Linked DNA regions of Homo sapiens. The protein of the gene in region 1 purifies or fractionates together with the protein of each later gene. This does not show direct contact. Each region holds a gene or a part of one and is shown on either strand. Other genes may lie near its edges. The genes, in order: PRTFDC1 and RTN3.

Region 1 (3,821 bases):
TTGCTGCTACTAAAAATACAAAATTAGCTTGGCATGGTAGTGCATGCCTGTAATCACAGCTACTTGGGAGGCAGAAGCAGGAGAATTGCTTGAATCCGGAAGGTGGAGGTTGCAGCAATCCAAGATTGCACCATTGCACTCCAGGCAACAAGAGTGAAACTCCTTCTTAAAAAAAAAAAAAAAAATAAATAAATAAATAAATAAATAAACAAAAAAAATGAGTATAAACTGGACCAGCTGCCAAGGGGCTTGGTGCTTGCATGAGAGCCCACAAAGGTGGGAAATAATCCACATATAATGGAGATAGTCCCTACATTTACATCCTTTTCTCCAGTAGAACTTGGAATAATTAGATTAACCTCAAGTTGGATATAAGCAGGCAACTTCAGAGCGAATCGAAGCTGCTGGTAGAAGGCAGCTCATGGCATGTAAGGCAGGAGGGAAGGGAGAGCTGGAGAGGATGAGTTTACTGGGAGAATAGAAAGCTCTCAAGGATGGGATACAAAAAATCAAATTAGTACCAGTTTTAAAAAGGGGCAGGTGGCTGGGAGTGGTGGCTCACACCTGTAATCCCAGCACTTTGGGAGGCTGAGAGAGCAAATCACTTGAGCCCAGGAGTTCGAGACCAGCCTGGGCAGCCAACCCTCTCTCTACAAAAAATACAAAACTTAGCCAGGCATGGTGGTGCATGCCTGTAGTCCCAGCTACCGGGGAGGCTGAGGTGGGAGAAGCACCTGAGCCCAGGAAGTCAAGGCTGCAGTGAGCCATGATCGTGCCACTGCATTCCAGCCTGGGTGTCAGAGTGAGACCCCATCTGAAAAAAGGGGCAGAGGGCAGGTAATAATAGCAAGCATTTCTTGAGCACAAATCTGTAAGGGAGGTCTAGTGTGCTCCCCATTTTACAGAAGAGGAAACTGAGGCACTGAGAGATTAAGTAAATCACCCAGGTCGCATAAGTAGCAAATGGCAGAAGCGGGATTTGAACCAGCTTTCAATCACTATACTACATAGCAAGCTGTGATTCCAGGATGGAATTTCAGGGTTGGGGCCATCTGTAGGACTGGTCTGGCTATGTGAATGTATTGCTAAATGGGGAATAAAGATGTGATTTGAGTTAAGAATGTAGTTTGAGCTAAGGCTGGTGAAGGAGCTACAAGATGAAGTCGTTGGAAAGATCGTTGAGGTAGGCATTGGAGTAAATCAGCCAAGGAATTGTCCAGGAATGAGGTAGAGAAGAAAATTCCGAGTTGGTAGAAATCTGTTGATAAAGATGGCAAGGGATGTAGAGTCAGATGATATAAATATAAAACGAGAAGTAAAGTTTGTGCAAGAGAAGGGAATATTAAGAGATTTAAGATGGCTCTTGCCTATAAATTGGCTTTTGGTTGAACTGGGGAGGTAGGACATTTATACCATTAACAATAAATGGTAGCAAATGCTAATTGCCACATAAGAGAGGTAGATCCTAAGGTCAGAAATTTTGCTCAGAGTTGGCTTGTCACTTGATCTGGAGCTAATACAGTCACCAGATTCCTGGTTGATACCTCTTTGTTACTTCTCAGGGAGAGATAAAGATCTTCTCTATCCACCTGGCTTTTGGGGATCGGGTTATTAGACATGTTTTTGTTTGTTTGTTTTTGTCTGGTTTGGTTTTGCCAAATGATTATCAACTGAGCTATTATTAGTACTTACCTAAGTGAGTTTGGTAGGAATCAGGAGAAGAGAGAAATCAGAAATGATTGTTGTGTTTCTGTTATGGCTGGCTTCCTGTCACCCCCCATGAAAATACGGCAGTATCAGAGATAAGTAATCAGGTAATATCAGAGATAAGTAATCCATCGAAAGCACAGCTCTACTAGGTGGTAATGAGTTTTCCTTCTGTGGGGCAAACCCACCACAGAAGAGGAAGGCATGTGGATAGGAGGTGGTTGGCCTGTCGAGCTTCCTTCATTCCTCTGTGAGCAGAACCTGGGAATCTTTTAGCAAACCACTTGTCCCCACTTTTCAAGATGTATGGTTGTGAGGTGGGGCCCTTCCCAGGGTACCTCCTTCCCTGGCTCTAGGGCTAGGACAGGAATCCCAGAATTCCTGTCTGGGATTCTTTGAATTAGAGTGAAGGGATGAGACCCCCTTTCTCTTGCTGGTGGAGGACAGATGAGAGCTATGGCCTGAAGGAGAGAACAGGGCCAATCTGTGGAGCTCAGCAGGGGAGAGGAGCAGAGATTAGCTTCTTGTATGTGTTTTCTCCCTTAGGGAGAAAAATGATGCAAAAAATAGTCTAAGCACAAAAAAAATTATTTTTAATGACTTACAAAGTTTTCAGTGCATCTTCAGTGCGAAAAAGAGAATCAGAATTACTTCTGGGATTTGGATGTTGCATAAAATGACTCACTTAATGGGTTTGTCACTTCCCCCAGCTTGGCTATGTTTTGCTGTTTTGAACAGAGAAAGCATTGTACTGAATACACTTAGAGCATATTATCTGTGATACTGAAACTATCTACAGACTCTGGTTTTGATTTTTTAAAAAGCAAGTGAATAACAGTTATCTACAGTTCATAGCAACCTCCATTCCTGCAGGTTTTGATTTATTTACAACACGATTTGCATGCACCATTGAAGTTAGCAAAGCATAAACCAGTATTTCCATCGTCTTGAATCGACTTTCATCTCAACAATGAAAACTCACTATTTAAGATTAATTGAAAATAATGGCCAATTTGGATTATAGAACAGTTTTAGAGAAATATATTTCTTCTACTTTTATACTTTTTGTTTTGTTTTCTTGAGACAATCTCACTTTGCTACCCAGGCTGGAGGGCAGTGATGCGATCATGGCTTACTACAGCCTTGACCTCCTAGACTCAAGCCATCCTCCTGCCTCAGCTTCCCAAGTAGCTGAAACTACAGGCACACGCCATCACACCAGAACAATTTTTTTTTTTATTTTTTGTAGAGATGGGTTCTCATTATATTACCCAGGCTGGTCTCACACTCTTGGGCTCAAGTGATCCTCCCACTTCAGCCTCCCAAAGTGTTGGGATTACAGGCATGAGCCAATGTGCCAGGCCTCAAATGTATAGTTTTAACTAAGATAATAACACTGGCATATAGGTTTGAGGCACTTCTTTAGATGAATTAAAACATATAATTTGTTGTTAAATGATTGATGTTTCAGTTCATCTAAATGATTAGCATTTATTGCATAAGTACTGTAGACCAGAAACTGATATGAGTCTTACATTCATTATCTTATTTAATGCTCACCATAGCCATATGAGGCAGGCACTAACTCCATTTCATAGATGAATACACTAAGAGAATTTAATATGCCCAAGGTCTCATGGCTGGCAGGCTTGTCCCAGGTGTGTGAGATTTCCATGTCCATGCTCTTAACACACTACTCTGTGTGGCCTCTGGGCTATGGATCCATATTACAGTTTATAGGTTTGTTTCATTTGTGATTTTCTTATCATTTTTTTCCTATTTTTGGCATTCATTTTTGGCACTTTTAGTCTGTTTCCTTTTTTTGGCATTATGCGTCAAACATCATGTATTATACACCATGCAGTGTTCCAGGTATTCTAAGTACATTATCCTTATAATAACCCTATCCATAGGTTTTACTGTGTCTTATTTAAAGCAAGGGGAAACTGGATCTCAGAGACAGTAAGTCATCTCCCTAACATCACAGTAGTAAGTGTCAGAGCCAAACTCTTGAACATGGAGTGGAGAGTATGCTCCAAGATTCAACCAGAACGGGGGCAGTAAAGGATTGATGTGGTTGGAGGAATGGATTCAGAAGACCACTAGTTAATGGT
Region 2 (3,821 bases), on another chromosome or scaffold:
ATAATGGTAGATGCAAACCATGTTTACTAAATTAGAACTACATATGAATTACAGTTTACTTCAAGTGTTTTGTTTTGGTAATATAGCTTTGCCACCAAGCTTTTACAGTTTTCCTTGAATGTACAAAGACTTTTTATTCTAATAACCAGATTACAGTTATACTATTTCTAAAGCTCAGCTCTTATTACATCAAGTTTCAGTGATGTGTTGAAGTAGGGGAACTTTATATGGCATTTCAAAACATTTTCATAATACTGGAATTTTATTTATTGTAAAATATTTTTGTCTTTAATAAAATAATTTTGAATGAAGTCATAATTTTGCTTTTATCTGGTATTTGGATGTTTACATGAAAAAGGGAACATAAGCTGAATAAAGGTAATCCCAAAAGAACTTCTCTGTCACATTTTCCCAGTTACTCATTCATGCTCAAGGCATTGCTGTCCTGAGCCTACTTAGGTCTCAGCTGACCAAGCTGAATCTTTGATTCACTTATTTGGGGCTATTTATTTAAGACCCACTTTGTCCCAGCTCCAAAGATACAACAGTATGCAAGAAAGACAGCGCCCAGGGTGGGCGTGGTGGCTCATGCCTATAATCCCAGCACTTCAGGAGGCCGAGGTGGGCAGGTTGCTTGAGCCCAGTAGTTTGAGACCAACCTGGCAATGTAGTGAGGCACCAGGTCTGTAGAAAGTTTAAAAATCAGGCCAGGCGCGGTGGCTCATGCGTGTATTCCCAGCTCTTTGGGAGGCCGAGGCAGGCGGATCACGGGGTCAGGAGATCGAGACCATTCTGGCTAACACGGTGAAACCCCGTCTCTACTAAAAATACAAAAATAAAATTAGCCAGGCGTGGCGGCGGGTGCCTGTAGTCCCAACTGCTTGGGAGACTGAGGCAGGAGAATGGCGCGAACCCGGGAGGCGGAGCTTGCAGTGAGCAGAGATCGCGCCACTACACTCCAGCCTGGGCGACAGAGCAAGACTCCGTCTCAAAAAAAAAACAAAAAAAAAAAAAAAAGAAAAGAAAGTTTAAAAATTAGCCAGGTGTGGTGGCATGTGCCTGTGGTCCCAGCTACTTGGGAGGCTGAGGTGGGAGGATAGCTTGAGGCCAGGAGGTCAAGGCTGCAGTGAGCCACAATTGTACCACTGGCACTCCAGCCTGGAGGACAGAGGGAGACCCTCTCTCAAATACAAACAAACAAATAAATGAAGTAAGAAAGCACCAGCCCTTGGGATATTTGTTTTGATCCTTTTCCCCAGTAAAAATTTGTTAGAGTGGGAAGTTAGAAAACAGTGTGGTAGATTGATGGCTACTATGGTATTAACTGATAAGACTTAACGTATTACTTTGAGAAGGATATTTTCTATTTTAAAAGTAATTCTGGAGTTAACTCTGTCTTTTTTTTTTTTTTTTTTTTTTTTTTTGAGACAGTTTCACTCTTGTTGCCCAGGCTGGGGTGCGATGGCGTGACCTCAGCTCACTGCCATCAATGTCTGCCTCCTGGGTTCAAAGGATTCTCCTGCCTCAGCCTCCCGAGTAGCTGGAATTACAGGTGCCTGCCACCACGCCCGGCTAATTTTTTTGTATCTTTAGTAGAGATGAGGTTTCACCATTTTGGTCAGGCTGGTCTCGAACTCCTGACCTCAGGTGAGCCACTGCACCCAGCCAAGTTAACTCTGTCTTAACCAAAGAAATCAATTTGCACAGTACAATATTGATTTAAATGACAAGTTAGTACAAGAGATTTTGGAGGGGCCAGGCGTAGCGGCTCACACCTGTAATCCCAGCACTTTGGGAGGCCAAGGCGGGTGGATCACTTGAGGTCAGGAGTTAAGAGACCAGCCTGGCCAACATGGTGAAACCCCATCTCTTCTAAAAATACAAAAATTAGCTGGGCTTGATGGTGCCTGCCTGTAATCCCAGCTACTTGAGAGGCTGAGGCAGGAGAATGGCTTGAACCTGGGAGGTGGAGGTTGCAGTGAGCTGAGATTGCGCCATTGCACTTCAGCCTGGGCAACAAGAAAAAGACTCCGTATCAAAAAAAAAAAAAAAAGATTTTGGAGGGGGTCCACCTTTTTCAGTACCCTTTAGTTTAGAACATCACAGCTATTTATTTGTACATGGGACAGATTCTCCCTGTGGATAGAATAGAATAATTCTAGTCTCATTTTTCAGATTCAGGAAGGGCCCATTGCATCTCCTAAAAATCAAAAAAGTCTGGCCACTAGTTTTTTTCCTTTTCAGATTGTGAGACTAACAGATTTATAGAGGCAGTCTGTGCTCTGAATTGTTCAGCTTACAGATTGAAGTCTATCAACCCTTTATAGTATCAGGTTATTTGTTTTGTATAAATTATTTTGCTTTTGTTGATTAGCTCTATCAAAGAATAAAAAACCTCCCAAGATTTCTCAATCTTACCGCCCTTCTTTATGCTTTCTCTGTACAATGGAAAAGTAGACCAAAAGTATTTGTCATGAAAATTTTTTATCATTTGCAGTTTGTGGCATGATATGGCTTTTCTGTTTCACTGTTGGCAGTTTTATGCATGTCCTGTAGGATAACTTGATCGTTTTGTTACATATTTATGTGTGTATATATACATCCTGTGTGTGTATATATATATTTATGTAATTTAAAAAATAAAAAGCATGCTGCTTGGCTTGGCTAGCTAATGTGTAATTGTACCTGGTAAACAATTTTTTTCTTTGAAATTCTGATCATAGAGGGATTGAGCTCTCTTTGCTCTGATGAGCCATCTTCAGAAATTATGACTTCTTCCTTTCTTTCATCTTCTGAAATACATAACACTGGCCTTACAATACTACATGGAGAAAAAAGCCATGTGTTAGGGAGCCAGCCTATTTTAGCCAAAGAAGGAAAAGACCACTTGGATCTTCTAGATATGAAAAAGATGGAAAAGCCTCAGGGGACCAGCAACAACGTATCAGACTCTTCAGTTTCTCTTGCAGCAGGAGTTCATTGTGACCGTCCTTCTATTCCAGCCAGTTTCCCAGAGCATCCTGCTTTTCTCTCAAAGAAAATTGGTCAAGTGGAAGAGCAAATAGATAAAGAGACCAAGAACCCAAATGGGGTATCAAGTAGGGAGGCTAAAACTGCATTGGATGCTGATGACAGATTCACTTTGCTGACAGCCCAGAAACCACCTACTGAGTACTCTAAGGTAGAAGGCATTTATACATATTCTTTGTCTCCATCCAAAGTTTCAGGAGATGATGTTATTGAAAAGGATTCCCCTGAATCACCATTTGAAGTAATTATTGACAAAGCAGCATTTGACAAAGAATTTAAAGACTCATATAAGGAGAGCACAGATGATTTTGGTAGCTGGTCTGTGCACACTGATAAAGAATCATCCGAAGACATTTCAGAGACTAATGACAAGCTTTTTCCACTGAGAAATAAAGAGGCAGGACGTTACCCAATGTCTGCATTGCTCAGTAGGCAGTTTTCACACACAAATGCAGCACTGGAAGAGGTGTCCAGATGCGTGAATGATATGCATAACTTTACTAACGAAATACTGACTTGGGATCTGGTTCCCCAAGTGAAACAACAGACCGATAAATCTTCTGACTGCATCACAAAAACTACAGGACTTGACATGAGTGAATATAATTCAGAAATTCCAGTTGTAAATCTTAAAACTAGCACTCATCAGAAAACTCCTGTATGTTCTATTGATGGGAGCACTCCCATCACTAAATCAACAGGTGATTGGGCAGAAGCATCTCTCCAGCAAGAAAATGCTATTACTGGAAAACCTGTACCTGACTCTTTGAATTCCACAAAAGAATTCAGTA

What was found.
Region 2: the proteins of PRTFDC1 (region 1) and RTN3 fractionate together in Homo sapiens (co-fractionation; one large-scale study listed by BioGRID). This does not show direct contact.

Annotation. Positions count from the first base shown.
Region 1 is NC_000010.11:24,946,104-24,949,924, reverse strand, and holds part of PRTFDC1 (phosphoribosyltransferase domain-containing protein 1), read left to right. Parts: intron 1-3,821. UniProt on the Homo sapiens protein: Has low, barely detectable phosphoribosyltransferase activity (in vitro). Binds GMP, IMP and alpha-D-5-phosphoribosyl 1-pyrophosphate (PRPP). Is not expected to contribute to purine metabolism or GMP salvage.
Region 2 is NC_000011.10:63,715,979-63,719,799, forward strand, and holds part of RTN3 (reticulon-3), read left to right. Parts: intron 1-2,723; coding exon 2,724-3,821. UniProt on the Homo sapiens protein: May be involved in membrane trafficking in the early secretory pathway. Inhibits BACE1 activity and amyloid precursor protein processing. May induce caspase-8 cascade and apoptosis.